Linked DNA regions of Homo sapiens. The gene in region 1 interacts genetically with each later gene. Each region holds a gene or a part of one and is shown on either strand. Other genes may lie near its edges.

Region 1 (5,578 bases):
AGACGGGAAGTCTCAATTTGTAAAACTAAGCTCTGGGTAGGGTTGTTGGATAAAATATAGGACACCCAGTTAAATCTGAATTTCAGAAAAAACAACAAATGCTTTATTATATGAGTATGTCCCATGAAACTCTGGATTATTTGAACTATCTGGGCCAGAAAGACCAGAAAGCCACAGATGACCAAAACATCTCATTTTAGTCATATTATTACTAAATCTCCCACCTCAACCAAACTGTCTGTCACTCTTAAAAGATAAAGAAAGGCGGTTTAATTCTTTCCGCCCTACCAAACAGTAGACTTGCTGAGAGGCTGGAGGCCAGAGGGGAAAAGCAGCAGCCACTGGAGAACGCAGGTCTTACTTGTATTTTTTATTTAATTCTACTCGTGCCCTCACCCACTAAAAAACAGCTCGCCCCAATCTTCAGTTCAAGGAGAAAGAGGTGAAGCAACATCATCACTGTTGTTTTTCTGAATCAGACCAAACAAAACATTATTTTGGGAAACCCATTCAACATTTCAGTTTTGTTCCTGTTCAATAGTATGAAAAATTGGCTCTCACTCACATGGTGTGGCTTAAAGAAAAAAACCTTTTAATTTTCAGAAAAAAGCGGGTCAATATGGAGTTTACTGCTCAGCCAAGTAACTGGACCAACAGTTTACTGTTCTTGGTCCAGATTTCTGGTTCATGTTTCCGCTTACTATTGTCCACTTACTTGCTCCTTGTGAGATGACAGAAATGTCTCCAAAGGAGACAGCCCTATTATTGGGAACTTCAACTTAAAAGCGATTCGCTCTCGCTCTGCTGACAGAACTACAGTATGCATTTACTGTTGCATCAGCCAGAGCCTTAGCTTTTGTACTAACAGGCAATTAGCACCAAATACCACGGCCAGGCTGAGCCTGCAAACACTGGCTTCTACTCCCTGTGCAATTATGAGCGAGCCACCAGAAGCATGAGGTAAGCAAGAAGTCAGCAATCAGGACAACTGCATCCGATCTAGTAACCATCAGGGGCACCTGCCTGCATCAGGGCTGGGCCGAACTTCCTGCTGGGATGGACACAGTGCTGGCTGAAAACATGAGAGGCACAGCCCCTTTCCCTTGCTCCGACCCCCCACAGCAGGGCTGGCCCAGCTCTGAGAACTTGCAGTGGGGTGGATCACAAAGTGTACTTACAGGGAGGTCTGCATAGAAGTAGTGCTTCCTGTCAAACAAGGACTTCTTGTTTATGTGGCAGTTCAGAGCCAGGCCTGTCATCACCGCCGCTTCTACACACCTCCTGTTGAGAACCTATGGGAACACAACACACAGTTCCTCTCAGAACCGCAGGCTGAACAAATGCTTCTCCCACACACTGACATCCTCGCTGAATATGCAACTTGGCCCTTCAACAGGCATTATCTCTGGTTCTCTGGGTGGGCAGCTCCAGTTCACAAGCCGAGTCTGTTTGCCTGGGAATCAGGGAAGGATATAAAGAAGAAAATGTATGCAGCAGTGGGTCCCACCGGGCACTTAAGGAACTGCCACATCGGGAACCCTTTCCCCCAGTGCCCGGCATCAAAGCTAACAGGAAGAGTCGCAGAAAAGCTTAGCGGAGTGGTTACTACATAGAATAAATCTAATCTCACTCCCTCTACAAACAGAATAAGGGGCCGGTCAGAATACACAAGAGGCACTGATTGCTGAGAGGAGTCCTGAGGAAGGGTGGCTTCACTTTGACAGAAAAAGAATGAACTTCTGAAAACGACAGGGCCGTAGCCATTTTCTCAAGGGCTAGGAAATGTGGCACAGCTGTTGCCTGGCTTTCTGTCCATGCCAGGCCAACTCCCTAAAAGTGGAACGCCAACGGAGGGCCTGTCCCACACACTGGACGACTCCGTGCTGCTGGTCTCTCTGGGGGCACCTGGTGCTCCAGTTCCCTCTGGGTGCCACCCTGTCCCACTTACAGGAGTGAATGACCAAGAAATGGCTGGCACACTTCCCAGCACCAAAGAATGTCAAAGCTTTTAAGAACACTGGGGGTCTGGAACTAGACAACGAGATAATGTAGCCAAGGAGAAGGAGCATTAAGTTCTCGAGTCAGGTTCAAATCCCACTTCTGCTGTGACTAGGAGTCTCAGTTTCCTTGTGTCTAAAAGTGGGATTTAAGATCTACTTTGCAGAACAGATAAAGTGATAGCTGGAACACCTCCCCTAAGGTAGAGATTCAATAAATAGTTCATTTCCCTACTCTACTTTGGGACAATTTTGGAGGATGTCATGTTTGCAGATGAAATATATTTCTATTTTTGTTAGGATATTTATGATGTTCTTTAGTATATTTAATATACTATTATTGATATAGATAGGGCCTTCTAGTTGAGCATTTCCACATCCACCATTTTATTTCAGCCTCACAGCAACGCTGTAAAATAAGGAATCTGCATTATTCCAATATTTCAGATTAAAAAAACAAAACTAAGACCCAAAGAGTCTAAAACATTTGCCCAAATTCACAGAACTGGCAAGTGGTAAAGCTGCCTGTAAAGCCCACACATGCCGTGGCTGAGAGGCGGCAAACAGAACTTCTGTGGTTCAGGGACTGGCTCTTTAGGCTGGGATGACGAGTGTAGACCAAACACAGATTTTAAAAACAAATTTCTACAACAAAATGGAAGGGGCATTTCTATTTACTGCAATATACGGTCCCCAAAGAAAACCCAAACAAGGGCCAGGCGTGGTGGCTCATGCCTGTAATCCCAGCACTTTGGGAAGCCAAGGCGGGTATATCACGAGGTCAGGAGATCGAGACCATCCTGGCTAACACAGTGAAACCCCGTCTCTACTAAAAATACAAAAAATTAGCTAGGTGTGATGGCAGGCACCTGTAGTCCCAGTTACTTGGGAGGCTGAGGCAGGAGAATCACTTGAACCCGGGAGGTGGAGGTTGCAGTGAGCCGAGATCTCGCCACTGCACTCCAGCCTGGGCGACAGAGCGAGACTCCATCTCAAAAAAAAGGAAAAAGAAAAGAAAAAAAGAAAACCTAAACAAATCTCCCGCCTAGTGACAACATCACACCCTTATTTTTCAGGACTCAGGTTATAAGATGGAGCCATTTCACAGTTTCTATTTGGAGTTCTTCATTCTGTGCCTAATAATGTCAGCTCTGCAGCAATAAAGGTTTTCAAGAAAAGATGTGTGGGGAACAGGAGGCTCTAATTATTGATGTTTTCACTTGCCTAATGTCTGGCATTTTACTGAGCGGTTGTTACTGAGATACAAACATAGCTGGTGGAGAATCCCGCCAAATCCAAGCCTGATGATTCGGGTCCAGGCACACAGAACATGAAGCTGCAGTCCCGACCCTGGGCTTTGCTCTTCCTGGGGTCAGAATGCAGTCAGCCAGGGCTGGCTCGTAAACTGCCTGACTCCTGGTCTGCACCAGTTCTGCCTCATCATTCCCTCTGCTTTCCTAACCACTGCTTTCGCTCTCATTTCAAGCTTCTTTGCCCCTGGGACCAAGCTGCTTCCTCCTGCTAGGCATGAAGAGAACCCAGGTTATTTTGTTTGTTTATTTTCAAGCACGCACCATAGCCTCCCTGTGGGAGAAGAGTTGAGGACCATCACAGACTCTCACTGTGTCCGTGTGCACACAAGCGCACGGGCACTTCATAAACCACCACTTTCCAGAGAAGAAGGCAGTAAAACACACAAACATTACAGTGATACTGAGAATATGCTTTAATCTTTTTTTGATGATTTAGAAGCCATGAAGTACTTCAAGGTCAGAATTATAAGCATCAGTCATCACACGTTACAGATGCACAGAGGGCCCAGTAAACAGAGAGTGTCAGTTAGAAGAATGCCAAGAAAAAAAGGAATTTCCTAGGATCTTAGTCAAGCTGCTTGTGACAGATGGAAGTCCAGGTCAGCATGTTCTGAGGATAGGATACAGAATGGGAAAATTCAACTTGGGCTGTCTTCACTCTGAAAAAAAAAATTCTTAAATGTCTATAAAGCACTAAACTTTAGGGGTACATAGATAAATAGGACTCTGTCTCTGCCCTCAATGAATCCGCAGTGGTGACATGAACCTGCCAGCATCTGCAAACCCTTTTCAAGTTTGTCTTTCATACTAGGGTGATCCTGCTAAAATTGTGGATCTGTGGCATTCTGTTACCTGAAGTCCCTCAATGGCCCCTGATGTTCCCACGACAAAGGCCAAGCTCTTACATGATCAAACTCCTGCCTACATCTTCAATTTCATCTACCACCATGTCCCCCCACAACACCTCTGCTGTAGTTCCTCTGTGCAAACCGTGCTGATCTTCTGATTCTCCCCATTCTTATTCCCTTCAAAATCCTAGTGGGACGTCACCACTTCTGTGAAGCCTTCCTTGTTGTCCTTTCTGTGTACCTCTTCTGACCTTCTACACACTCCCATTGGGGCTTCCATCACAGTGGATTGAATTTGTTCACATGTAGTTCCACACAATTGCACATTTCATGAGGACGGGAATTGTCTGTTCACCCTTGTATCCCTGGAGCCTAATACAGAACCTGAAAAATTGTGGTATTTGATTAATGTGTGCTGAGCTCAAAGGAGGAGGGAGGGGATGATATCAATGGACGATTTCAGAGAGGCAGTGATGCCCCAGTCTCCTCTAAGGTGTTACCTGCCACATGCTGGCCTGCAAACTTGTTTCTGGAAGTGCCCTGAAGTGACAACTGATTGTGTGTGATACGATCAAGATGTAATTTAAAAACTAAAAAGACTAACTTGGCTTGAAGAAAGTATGTTCCAGAATTTCTCTGTAATTAAATGACTACAAAGGATCTCAGGGTTAGCCATAGCAGCTCTCGTTTGGAAAGAAGGCAGTAATTTTTGGTACTCACGCAGCACACCTTTCTCAGCTGAGCCTTCAGAGGCTTCTTTTTGGCTTCAGGAAGGGTCAGCAGCGAGTATTTATTGTGCACTGACACTGTGTCAGGAGGTGTGCTGCACATCACACACACATGCCATTGAATCCTCTCATTCCTAGGGTAAATACTATTATGATCCTCATCTTACAATGAAGGGAAGCATAGAGATGACACAGTTTGGTCAGGGTGACACATGGAAGTGGCAGAGCCAGGAAGTCAGATCCCAGAATCCAGGCTCTCAACCACTATATTCAATCTGAAATCTTACAAGAAAAAAGCATGTTAGTTTTAGCTATCAAGACTACTAACAGCAGGCCATAACTCCAGAGCAGCACCTCAACCCAAATCCTACTGTACATCATTTAAGGCAGATGCTATTTCTAATGTGTTTCTTCTTGCCAGTTTCTCCCTCTTTAGATTTGTTTCCAGATGTTGAACTCTCAGAGGGCAAGCATTGTGTTCTTTTAACTACATGAAAGAATTGAGTGTTCTTTCAGTGCAGTCTCTGGCATGTGGAGTGCTTGGTGATGGGTGACCCTACATGTTTTCTCAACGAGCAGAGGATGTTCTATTGCTAGACTTCAGAAACCCTTAGACACAGGCACCCATACAATGATTTATCAAATAAGAGGCTAATTCTTCTATTTAATCAGAAGATGAGAAAGCTGTGATG
Region 2 (3,500 bases), on another chromosome or scaffold:
GAATATATAAGGCAACTCACATAAGAGAAATCCAAATAAACCATAATATAAACTATGCTCCACCACAGTACAAAGTAGGAATATGCAAATTAGAACATTACATATAATTTCATACACATGAAATGAACAATTAAAAAAAAAACCTAACAGAACCTGATATTGGAGGATATCTGCAGCTATAGGAACTTTCAGATACTGCTAGTGAGAGAGGAAATCTGTACAAGCATTTGTAGCATAATTTGGCAATATACAGTAGAGCTGAAGCTGTGTAAAACCTCATGACCCTCTAGGTCTCTAAGAACATATCCTAGAGCACAGCGTACATACATACTTACACGGGCGATAGGTATAAAAATGTTCATTATGGTATTATGTGTAATGTCAAGAAATGAAAAAAATAATAAAAATCAACATGTGAACGAAAAAATAAACTGTGATAATTCTGATAATGGAATACGAGATTGAATCCCAAAATGGAATAAAAAATAATCAAGTCACAGAAAATTTGTACAGTATAATGCTATTTGTATAAAATCTTGAAAAGACTACTCCTATCATTTACTCTGAGTGTGTGTGTGTGTGTGTGTGTGTATGTGTGTGTGGTGTATTTATCTGCAATGTAAGGATAAAATATGTATGGAAATAATGATGACGAAAGTTTAAGATAGTACAACTCATAGAAGGGAAAGAAAGGGGATAGAAGAGGGCTCCAAACATATCAACAATATTTTATTTCTTTAAAAAAGATATAAAAATATGGCAATATATTAAAATTGAACAGAGCTGAGTGGTGGGTAAAAAAATTTAGGGATGCTTATCTTTCTAAAATGTATCTTGCCTCTCTGTGTTCTTAAGAGCTCAAAGGACATTCTAACCCTCTTCTGAATGATTCAGGGGCAACATTACAAACACCAATGATTACTGGAATAATCCTGGGGCTAGGTAGGCAGGCAGGGGGCCCCACTGCTCAACAGTAAAAGACACAGTGCTTTCTGAGCTGGTTTGCAGCTGCTGGGTTTGCTCTTTCCCGCTTCACTGCAATGCACACACATAGTCTAATCACTTCTTTTCCTTTGCTGCTTGTAGCCTGCCGTGGATGAAAACCATATAATTTACCTTATTAGAGCTTTGCCTTAAGGAAGATTAAAAAATAGGTTCTGTGTGAGATATGGAAGAAACTTCCTATGGGCAAAGTTATAGATTGTACTCAAAGCCAACCTTTCATCTCATACCTCTTCCCCATGACCTTTTTATTTTAAACTGTCTGGCTCTTGTCTGTTTGGAGAGTTGAAATTATTGGGATGCCGTACTCAAGATAAGTGATGAGTTACTATAGCATGTAAGACAAAATATAATCTTTCTTACTAAAATGTAAAACCAAGACACATATACTCTCATACAGCTACAAAAAATGACAGAAGTAGAGATTTAAGTTAAAGAATAAGCTTATGGATCAAGTGGTCAAAAATATTTCTAGTTCTTCATAAAGTAAAAAAGGAGCTTAATCTTACTACTGGCAGAAAATTCAAAAATTCAAAATGCATTGCAAATTTTAATATCCAACTGGCACAATTCAAAAAAGATCTTATTTAAGTATTTAAGTATATTTCACTTAGAACACATCCAGAAACGTCAGGGGAATATGTGTCCCAATCCATTAACCTGACCCATTCAATTCAATCTTTGTAGCATATATCCCCAGGCTGTAGAGATGAAAACATGCGAATCATATATTTCAATTTAGAAAAAAGCAGCACACATAGCTGTCCCTAACTCATTAAGGAAAAATTCAAATCACAGACCAGAAAGCTCTACAAAAGATTTCATTCAAAGCTAGCATAAAACTGAAATGTTCTATCAACCTCAAATATACATTACTGTTTCTGTGATAGATGTACTATTGGGAAAGCTATAAAAATTCAACATCCATTACAAGATAGATGATTTTAGCAACAAAAGGTCAGGAAACCAAACTAGTTAATTTTTCTTTAAAAGGAAACCTCTAACCCTTGAGCTTTTAAAAAGCATTTTGATGGAGTATGAGAAAAACAAGGGGTCAAAGAATTTACAAGGACAGTGGTTTTTTTTTTCTTATTAATCTAAAATAATTTTAAGTACAAGGAGAAAAATTAGGCTTACACTTGAGAAGCTACACAGCCATATATCAGGGACAATGAGAACTATGTAAGGTAATTAATGGAGAGGGTGACTCCCTCCCTGCTTGGGATGTGCTCATCAACAGCCAGGGTCCTCTGGAGATGGTGGGAGAAAAAGAGGCTGATGCTGGACCCAGAAAGAAAAGAACACAGGGCCAGCAGCATCGAGAACTTGCACATCATGACTTTAGCAGAAAACACACTACCTGTACTCAAGTTCAGCCTTCCCTGTAACTACTCCATGACCTTCTGGAAGGCATTAAACCTTTTGAGCCTCAGTTCATCATTTATATTAATAAAATGAGGTTAGATGGGATTAGTTCTCACTTACTGCTTAACAGTCTGATTATATTTTATGAACTGTAACTTCATATTGTCTATATGTCCCTTAATGCATATGAGCTGAATTCTTACACTTAGATCCTGTAGTGCTAGAGACAGGAATAAGACGACGGTGCTCATTTATTTCTGTTTTGTAATTAACAAAGCCAATCAAAGTAAATGTTAAAAAGAGCTTCCTGTGGCTAAAATACAAAATTACATATACAGCCATGTCAAGAGTAAATGGCATATAAGAAAATGCTGCTATATGAAATGGTGCGAATTACTGTCCCTGCCCAAATCTCGCCAAATTGTAATCCCCAATGTTGGAGGAGGGGCCTGGTGAAAGGTGATTGGATCAAGGGGGCAGATTTCCCTCTTGCACGACAGTGAGTGAGTTCTCATGAGAACTGCTTGTTGTAAAGTGTGTAGCACCTCCCCACTCTCTTCCTACTGCTCCAGCCACATAAACCATGCCTGCTTCCCCTTTGCCTTCTGCCATGATTATAAGTTTCCTGAGGCTTCCCCAGCCATGCTTCCTGTAGAGTTGCAGAAATGTGAGCCAATTAAACCTTTTTTTTAAAATAAATTACCCAGTCTCAGGTATCTCTTTATAGCAGTGCATAGAATGGACTAACATAGGGGCTGGGCGTGGTGGCTCACGCCTGTAATCCCAGCACTTTAGGAGGCTGAGGCGTGTGGATCACGAGGTCAGGAGATCGAGACCATCCTGGCTAACATGGTGAAACCCCGTCTCTACTAAAAATGCAAAAAATTAGCCAGGCGTGGTGGTGGGCGCCTGTAGTCCCAGCTACTTGGGAGGCTGAGGCAGTTGAATGGCATGAACCCGGGAGGCGGGGCTTGCAGCGAGCCGAGATGGCACCACTGCACTCCAGCCTGGGTGACAGAGCGGCGAGACTCGGCCTCAAAAAAAAAAAAAAAAAAAAAAGAAAAGAATGGACTAATATAGTATATATATATTCTCCCACTGAAACTTTCACTTGCAAAATGTGAAAATCAGAG
Region 3 (3,500 bases), on another chromosome or scaffold:
TCTGTTTCGTCACTAAGGGTCAGAACTTCTGCTTTTATTTATTTCTGCCTTCTGTTTTTTCTTCCTGGCCTTATTCCCTTGCTAGAACTTTACTCCAGTTCTTTAAGAATTTGCTTCCCCTGAAGTAATGCAAACAAACACGAAACAGAATATTCATAACCCTTCTTTTATGTACATATGTGGGATGGGGTTTTTAAATATTGTTTGCTGAATGTTCGCATGACTGATAATACACATAAACCAAATATAATCAGTAGAGCAGAAGAAACCAGAAATCAGATTCTTGCCAAGGAGTTCGTAAACTTCTTTCAGCAAAGAAGTTAAACAAACCTTTAACGGAACCATTAGCACGTGGCAAAAAGAAACCCACAAAAACTAGAGTAGAACTTTTCTTTGTGCTGCCCATCCTCTAGAAATTACCAAGGAGTGTTAAGCTGCCTGAAGGAAGAGATGGGAAAAAGAGAACAATTAAGAAATCTGGATCATACACAAATTAGAAAATCATCTGGAACTGCTGAAATGACAACTACAATGGATTTATACAAACAGGATGGAAAGCAACACATTGGTCAGACACTTTAATTAGAAACTGCAGATTTATAACTCTTAGGAAAACCACAGAAATCTGAGAGAGGACCTGAGATTCAGGGGTTGGTGGGAACTCAGGAACTTAATAACTGTCCTTAAGAAAGTGAGTGGCAGATAACCTTCTCAGCTTATGAGCAAGTCGTCCAAGGAGGTACAAGACCCCATTCTTTTACTTAGTGCAGAATCAGAAGAAAACTATCCACTCAATTCATGCCTTACTCCTTACAATGAATTAGGCTTATGGCTTATTCTTCAGAAATTTTTAGGAATATGGGAAAATAGCTGTTAAGAGTTCTTTGGGAGCTAGGAAAACAGTAAAATCCTTGATCTAAGCTGTTTCTAGTTTTTCATTTGAAAGTTTTTACATAAAATTATTTTTATTATACTAATGTTTGTTATGTATTTAATTTACCAATCTTGCCCCAAACATTTTCCACCTGTAATTTCTTTACTAGCATCTCTTGTTTTACATTTGTTCAATAAAGATTAAATTAATAGCAAAATCAAATGAATAATTATATACTAGCTAAGCCAAAATCCAAATCTGAGTTCATAAAAGATACATAGAAAAGTATTGTTTTCTAAAGTCTTTAATATTCATGAAGATTTCTGTTTATTACAGAAAAGGTATTCAGCTTATTGCCTGTCCCTGCCTTTTGCTTTTCTGCATGAATTAAGTCATTTTCCTCTGTGACAATGAAATGAGTTCTATCATCTGGGGGTGGAAAAGAGAGAAGGAATGATGGGAGTTTCTGTTATAATTGAGCAAGAATCTGATTGAAAGGGAAATTTTCATAATTATATAAAAGTATAAGAATTTAAGCCTTTAAAAGAGATTAAGATTTAAATGATAGGGAAAGGATGGCTTTTATAAGTGGGTCCTATTATTTTTGTCAGCTTCTGACTTTAGAAGAAAGATGACTTCTGCCTCTTTATAGATCACGCTCTGAAGCTGTGGCTGAGCCTAGAGGGTGACAGAGTAAAAGGAGCACCTCAATAGGAATCCGGAGCCCCAGTTCTGGTCCTAGCTTTGTCACTAGCTGTGAGGCCTTGGGCAAATTCTTTTGCCTTCTGGGATCAGTTTGCTAACTGTAAATCAAAGGTGAGACAAAAGAAGGTTTCTGTGTGGAAAAGCATGAGCTCAGGAATCAAACACACATTTGATTTTGAATCCTGGCTCTGCCATGTCTTGGCAAATTACCTAAACCTTTTTCTGAGCCTCAGTTTTCTTACTCCAAAAATGAGGATAATAATACCTACCCGCTGGGTTGTTTCAGGATTAAATGAGATAATCAATTGAAAGACAGTGCCTGGCACATGGTTAAATGCTCATTAAATGCAAATTATTTTTTAAATGATAAATATGGTGATTTCAAGACATTCCATTTCAAAAAACTTATGTGAGTGGATTTCAAGTGAATCTGATACCAGAGTGAGATCGATTATAAATGCTTCAAAATCCATGAGCATTCCGTCATAGTCTCAGGTCCTGATAGACACACCACGTTCTGATCTTTGTGTATCTTTTATTTATGTACCACTTCAGTTTGTAAAATGCATTTTGTCACACATTTTCTCATTTGATTTTCAAAACAATTCTGTGAGATAAACAATGCAAGGAGCCCAGAATCCAAAACATTAAATGATGTGGCCTGGATCACACAGGTTTCCTGGGGCAGAGCCAGCATTGCAGCCCAGGCTCTGGCTCACTCACTGAGTGCTCACTCTGCTTTGCCATTCCTTGATTCAAACCCTGATAGGGGGCTGCCAGGGGATCACACACAATGCCCCTTATGCTATCTCCCCAATTGCTAAAACAATTTATTTTGATCCATTTGATATTTTAAAAAACTGTATGCTTAAGAAGAATGAGATGTCACAAAATCAGTAAGCTACAACATCAAAACATTTGGAAGTCAATAAATGATTATCTAAACCAAAAGGGAAAAAAAAGCTAATTTTACTGTCCTCACTCAGAATTAAACTGCTCCTTAAGAGTTTGTTTTCAAAATCTATTAAGTTACATTAGTCTGATGATGTTGACACAAGGGCTTTTCACTTCCTAACAAGGTAGAAGTCAAGCTTTCATTGTAAAATTATGTATTACATTCAAACCTTCCCTTTTTTTCATTTCATTTTACTTGTTACACACTACATCTTTTTCAATAGCAATTTTTCTTTCTAACCATTGCCCAAAATCATCTTTCAGTTTAACACAAATAGCTCTCCTCCCCTTACTCATTTTTCATAACCACCAATCTCACAGAAAGAATGAATGTGTTGACCGAATCAGGAGATGGGGAAAAGGCAAGTCTAGAGAGGTGTGGTCTTGTGCAGCTGTACTTATTCAGCTGCTTGCCTTGGGCCTAATCTCTTTATTAAACATAGAGGGTTTGTATTATTTGACTATAACTACTACAAAGAGATGATCAGAATTTAAAACTCCAATCAGATTCAAACATTTCATGTAACAATCACATCTCCCAGCTGTCATTTTGACCAGTATCAAGAGGTAAGGGTTAACACGTTCCAGACTGATTCCCAGCAAGCTGGCCTCCCAGAAAAGGAACAGAGAGCACTCTGTGGAAACTGGCTGCAGCCAAGTATTATGCTTCCACCATTAATTCAGGTAGAGTGCCGAGCTGGTGTACCTGGTGCAGAAGCCAAGGGTCCACTAACTCATGTAGCTGCTACCTCAAGGTTAGACCCTACCCCAGTTCACAACAGTGAAAGGGCTGGTGTGCCCCAAACCATGATGCTAAGGCAGCAGAACAGAGTTGGAGGCTACGATTGCCAGGGAAGGGGCAGTTACTTCTCAGAACATGTAGCCAGCGAGGAGCCCAGGTGCCTCTCCTGGAGTCTCAGATATGACCCTGCCAGATCCCTGTGTGCTGCCCCACCATGCAATGGAC
Region 4 (3,500 bases), on another chromosome or scaffold:
AATACCTTTCAGAATACTAAATTACAAGCTAATCAAGTTTTATTTATACTACTTCAAATCTTATGATGAGCAAAGTATAGGGAAGGATGAGGGTTTATAGAACCATAAGGTACGACAATGCCACTGATAACATGCAGCCTATTTATTATAATCTAGTCTTTTAATAGGAAGCAAAGAAAAACAGCACAGGAAATACACTTTAAAAAGAACAACTTTACTACACTAAATTATTGGTTTACTTGCAGTCTACTAAAGAAACTGAAGTGATTTCTTATTTTTTGGGATGCCTCAGACAACTTTGGTGTAAGAAAAAATAGTAACTCATCTCCCCCAAAAAAATGCAAACATAGAAATATTCTCCATACAATTTCAGTGTATAAACCTACCAGGAAATATGAAGACATTCTACAGAGACTTGGGAAGCTAATGACTCACTGAATAGCACAGGAAGGTAACAGTTTGCATTGAAGGACCTTCCAAAAAGAATAGGAGGTAACGGTAGAGTCAGATCATAGCATCAATGTGCCAATGTCAACACTGGTTCCAAATTTTGACATGCCTTAATTAAAGCAACCACAGAATTTATGTTTTGAACACAGAAAGGGCTCTATTAATAGTCATGCAGAAACAAAAGGCATACACTGGGAGTTAACTGGACAAACCAAGATACATGGTTACACTAAATCTATCCTTTTTTCCTGCCTGAAAACACTAAAAAACCATAAGTGACAGGATGCCATACTGTTCTAAAGAAAACATTTCAAAAGATATAACTCATTATAGGTAGACCTGATGCATCTGATATAACATCACTCATATACAGTCACGCACCACATAATGATGTTTCAGCCAACGAAAGATCACATAAACAGTGGGACCCTAAGATTATAAAACCGTATTTTTACTGTACCTTTTCTACATTTAGATATGTTTAGATACACAAATACTTACCATTGTGTTACGATTGCCTATTGTATCCAATGCAGTAACATGCTGCACAGATTTGTAGCCTAGGAGGAAAAGGCTATGCCATATAGCCTAGGTGTATAGAAGGCTATACCATCTAGGTTTGTGTGAGTATACTCTGTGATGTTCACATAACTATGAAATTGCCTAAGGATGCATTTTTCAGAACATACCCCCATTGCTAAGCAACACATGACTGTATGTATACACACACACACAAACACACTAGATAGATTCACTTATAAAATACACTTTGACAGGGAACAATGCACGAACTCAAAAGACAATCCCAATAAAAGCAAGTATAAATGCTTCTGATAAAGTCAAACAGAAAAATGTAATTTTCTGTCTTAACAGGAAGAATGATGATTTTACACAGGAGGCTGAGTCATGGCCCAAATGGTATTTAGTATTGTAGTTTTCAACACCAAAAAAAGGTTAAAATTAGAAACTTGAGAAATATTCAAAAGTTTCAAAACATACATACTGTTCCTCCTTAGAAATTATGCATGGTCCTAAGTACTAATGATGCAAAGAGAAATGAGACACAGCCTTAAGAAGCAACTCAATCCAGTGAGTTCAATTTAGTCCCATCATTTGTTTTTCAATTACTCATTTCAAGTTTTCCTCATTCCTTCCATAAGGAAATTAAGCTACCCCAATTGGAGTGTGAGTTTACTAAGACAAAAGTCATTCCCTGTATTTCCTTACATTTCCTTCACAATGTATACTATTAGATATTCCTTAAGGCATTGAAAAAGAAACATGAAAATACTTTCTAATATCTTGGAGAAGAGAGTAGTATCTCCTTCACATGCGGCCAGATCCATCTTAAAAAGATCTACCTTATTTAATCACTTTGAGATTAAATTTTAAATAACCTACTAATTTAGGTAAGAAAGACAAAAGAAAAACCATGATGATACTGATGGAGATGACAGCGATGACGGTGGTGATGATGGTAGCTAACATGAATGGGTACTTACTGTGTGCCAGGCATGCTTCTAAGCACTCTACATAAATCAACTTACTAGAGCTTCACAACTATCCTATGAAAGGGAAATTATTTTCCTCATTTTGTAGCTCAGAAAACTGAGGCACAGAAAGGCTAAATGACTTTCCTATGGTCCCATAGCTTGTACACAGCAAAGCTAAGATTTGAACCCGAGCAGTCTGACTGAATCTGACTTATAGCCAGTATACTCTGCTTTTCTTCTAAGTGGATGTCAATGAAAATTACTGATTGGTTGAACAGAACAACCTCTGTCACTGAAGTTTCCGGTTACAAATTTGGCCTTTTAAGCTAGTCAGATTTCAAGGATGACACATTGGCCATTTGTACCAAGCTCTAAATTGAATCAAATTAGTCAAACTCCTATACCTGCCCAAGAGTAAGTGGAACAGCATCCTGAGTATGAGTACGTCCAATCTTGATGATCTGTGCAAACTCTTTGGATTTTGCATCAAGAGCATCATGTAACTTCTGTAGTCCTGGTAACAGTACTTCATGAACTTCTATTGCAGCAGCAATGTGCATTGCTGTGGGAAAAGTATCATTTGAGCTCTGTTGGAAATTTTTCAAAAGAAATATAAAATGTTAAATCAGAGGCAACAAAAACAAACTTCTGAATTAAACTTCTCAATTAAAAAACTCTCCAACTAACTACTCAAAACCCAGCTCAGTTACATGTATGTGTGGCATGTCATAGGTGAGTTATTATAGAATCAAATAAGCAGCATCCTGGTTTCTAACACATACTCAGAACTGTATTATACACATTAAGTATACTGAATGTATTATGTATTATATATGTATTACGTATTATATTATATTATGTATTATATAATATATTATGTATTATATTATGTATTACGTATTATATCTGCCTGCTAATAAATGACAGCAAAATACAGAGAAGTATAGTTAACAACTGCACTTGAAGACAGCAGTAGTATCTTCAATGTAGTTGAATATCTTATAATTATATCAAATTACATCAATTATTGAATTATATATTCTTATAAAATCTTATAATTGAATATCTTACAATTATACAGTGCATACAGTCTTTCATAAACAGCTCTTTATTAAGTTTAGAAAAATTCTGTGAGGTAGATTACCACTTTAAAAATAGGAAAGCCAAGCCCTCAAAGAGACTGTATAAATGCCAAAATATTTAGCAACTGGCAAACCTGAGACCTAGCCAGGTAGTATATACTCAGTGCTCTTTCCTCAACTGTTGACCCTGTACTTTTAAAACATAATATCAAGCTGGGTGCAGTGGCTCATGCCTATAACCTCAGCACTTTCAGAGGCTGAGGCAGGAGGATCAATTGAGGCCAGGAGTTTAAGACCAGCCTGGGCAACACAGAGCAATACCCTGTCTCTGAAAACATTTTTAAAGTTAGCCAGGCATGGCGGTGCATGCCTATGGTCCCACTTGCTCAGGAAGCTAAGGCATGAGGATCCCTGGAGCTCAGCATTTCCAGGCTGCAGTGAGCTATGCTCACTCTACTGCACTCCAGCCTGGGTG

Evidence for each region. A genetic interaction does not mean that the proteins touch.
Region 2: changes in GATB (region 1) and TFB1M together harm fitness less than expected from each alone (positive genetic interaction), as found in Homo sapiens cells (one large-scale study listed by BioGRID).
Region 3: changes in GATB (region 1) and LARS2 together harm fitness less than expected from each alone (positive genetic interaction), as found in Homo sapiens cells (one large-scale study listed by BioGRID).
Region 4: changes in GATB (region 1) and FH together harm fitness less than expected from each alone (positive genetic interaction), as found in Homo sapiens cells (one large-scale study listed by BioGRID).

Annotation. Positions count from the first base shown.
Region 1 is NC_000004.12:151,718,247-151,723,824, forward strand, and holds part of GATB (glutamyl-tRNA(Gln) amidotransferase subunit B, mitochondrial isoform 1 precursor), read right to left. Parts: intron 1,293-5,578; coding exon 1,179-1,292; intron 1-1,178. UniProt on the Homo sapiens protein: Allows the formation of correctly charged Gln-tRNA(Gln) through the transamidation of misacylated Glu-tRNA(Gln) in the mitochondria. The reaction takes place in the presence of glutamine and ATP through an activated gamma-phospho-Glu-tRNA(Gln).
Region 2 is NC_000006.12:155,286,985-155,290,484, forward strand, and holds part of TFB1M (dimethyladenosine transferase 1, mitochondrial), read right to left. Parts: intron 1-3,500. UniProt on the Homo sapiens protein: Mitochondrial methyltransferase which uses S-adenosyl methionine to dimethylate two highly conserved adjacent adenosine residues (A1583 and A1584) within the loop of helix 45 at the 3-prime end of 12S rRNA, thereby regulating the assembly or stability of the small subunit of the mitochondrial ribosome.
Region 3 is NC_000003.12:45,395,076-45,398,575, reverse strand, and holds part of LARS2 (leucine--tRNA ligase, mitochondrial), read right to left. Parts: intron 1-3,500.
Region 4 is NC_000001.11:241,506,256-241,509,755, forward strand, and holds part of FH (fumarate hydratase, mitochondrial), read right to left. Parts: intron 2,531-3,500; coding exon 2,348-2,530; intron 1-2,347. UniProt on the Homo sapiens protein: Catalyzes the reversible stereospecific interconversion of fumarate to L-malate. Experiments in other species have demonstrated that specific isoforms of this protein act in defined pathways and favor one direction over the other.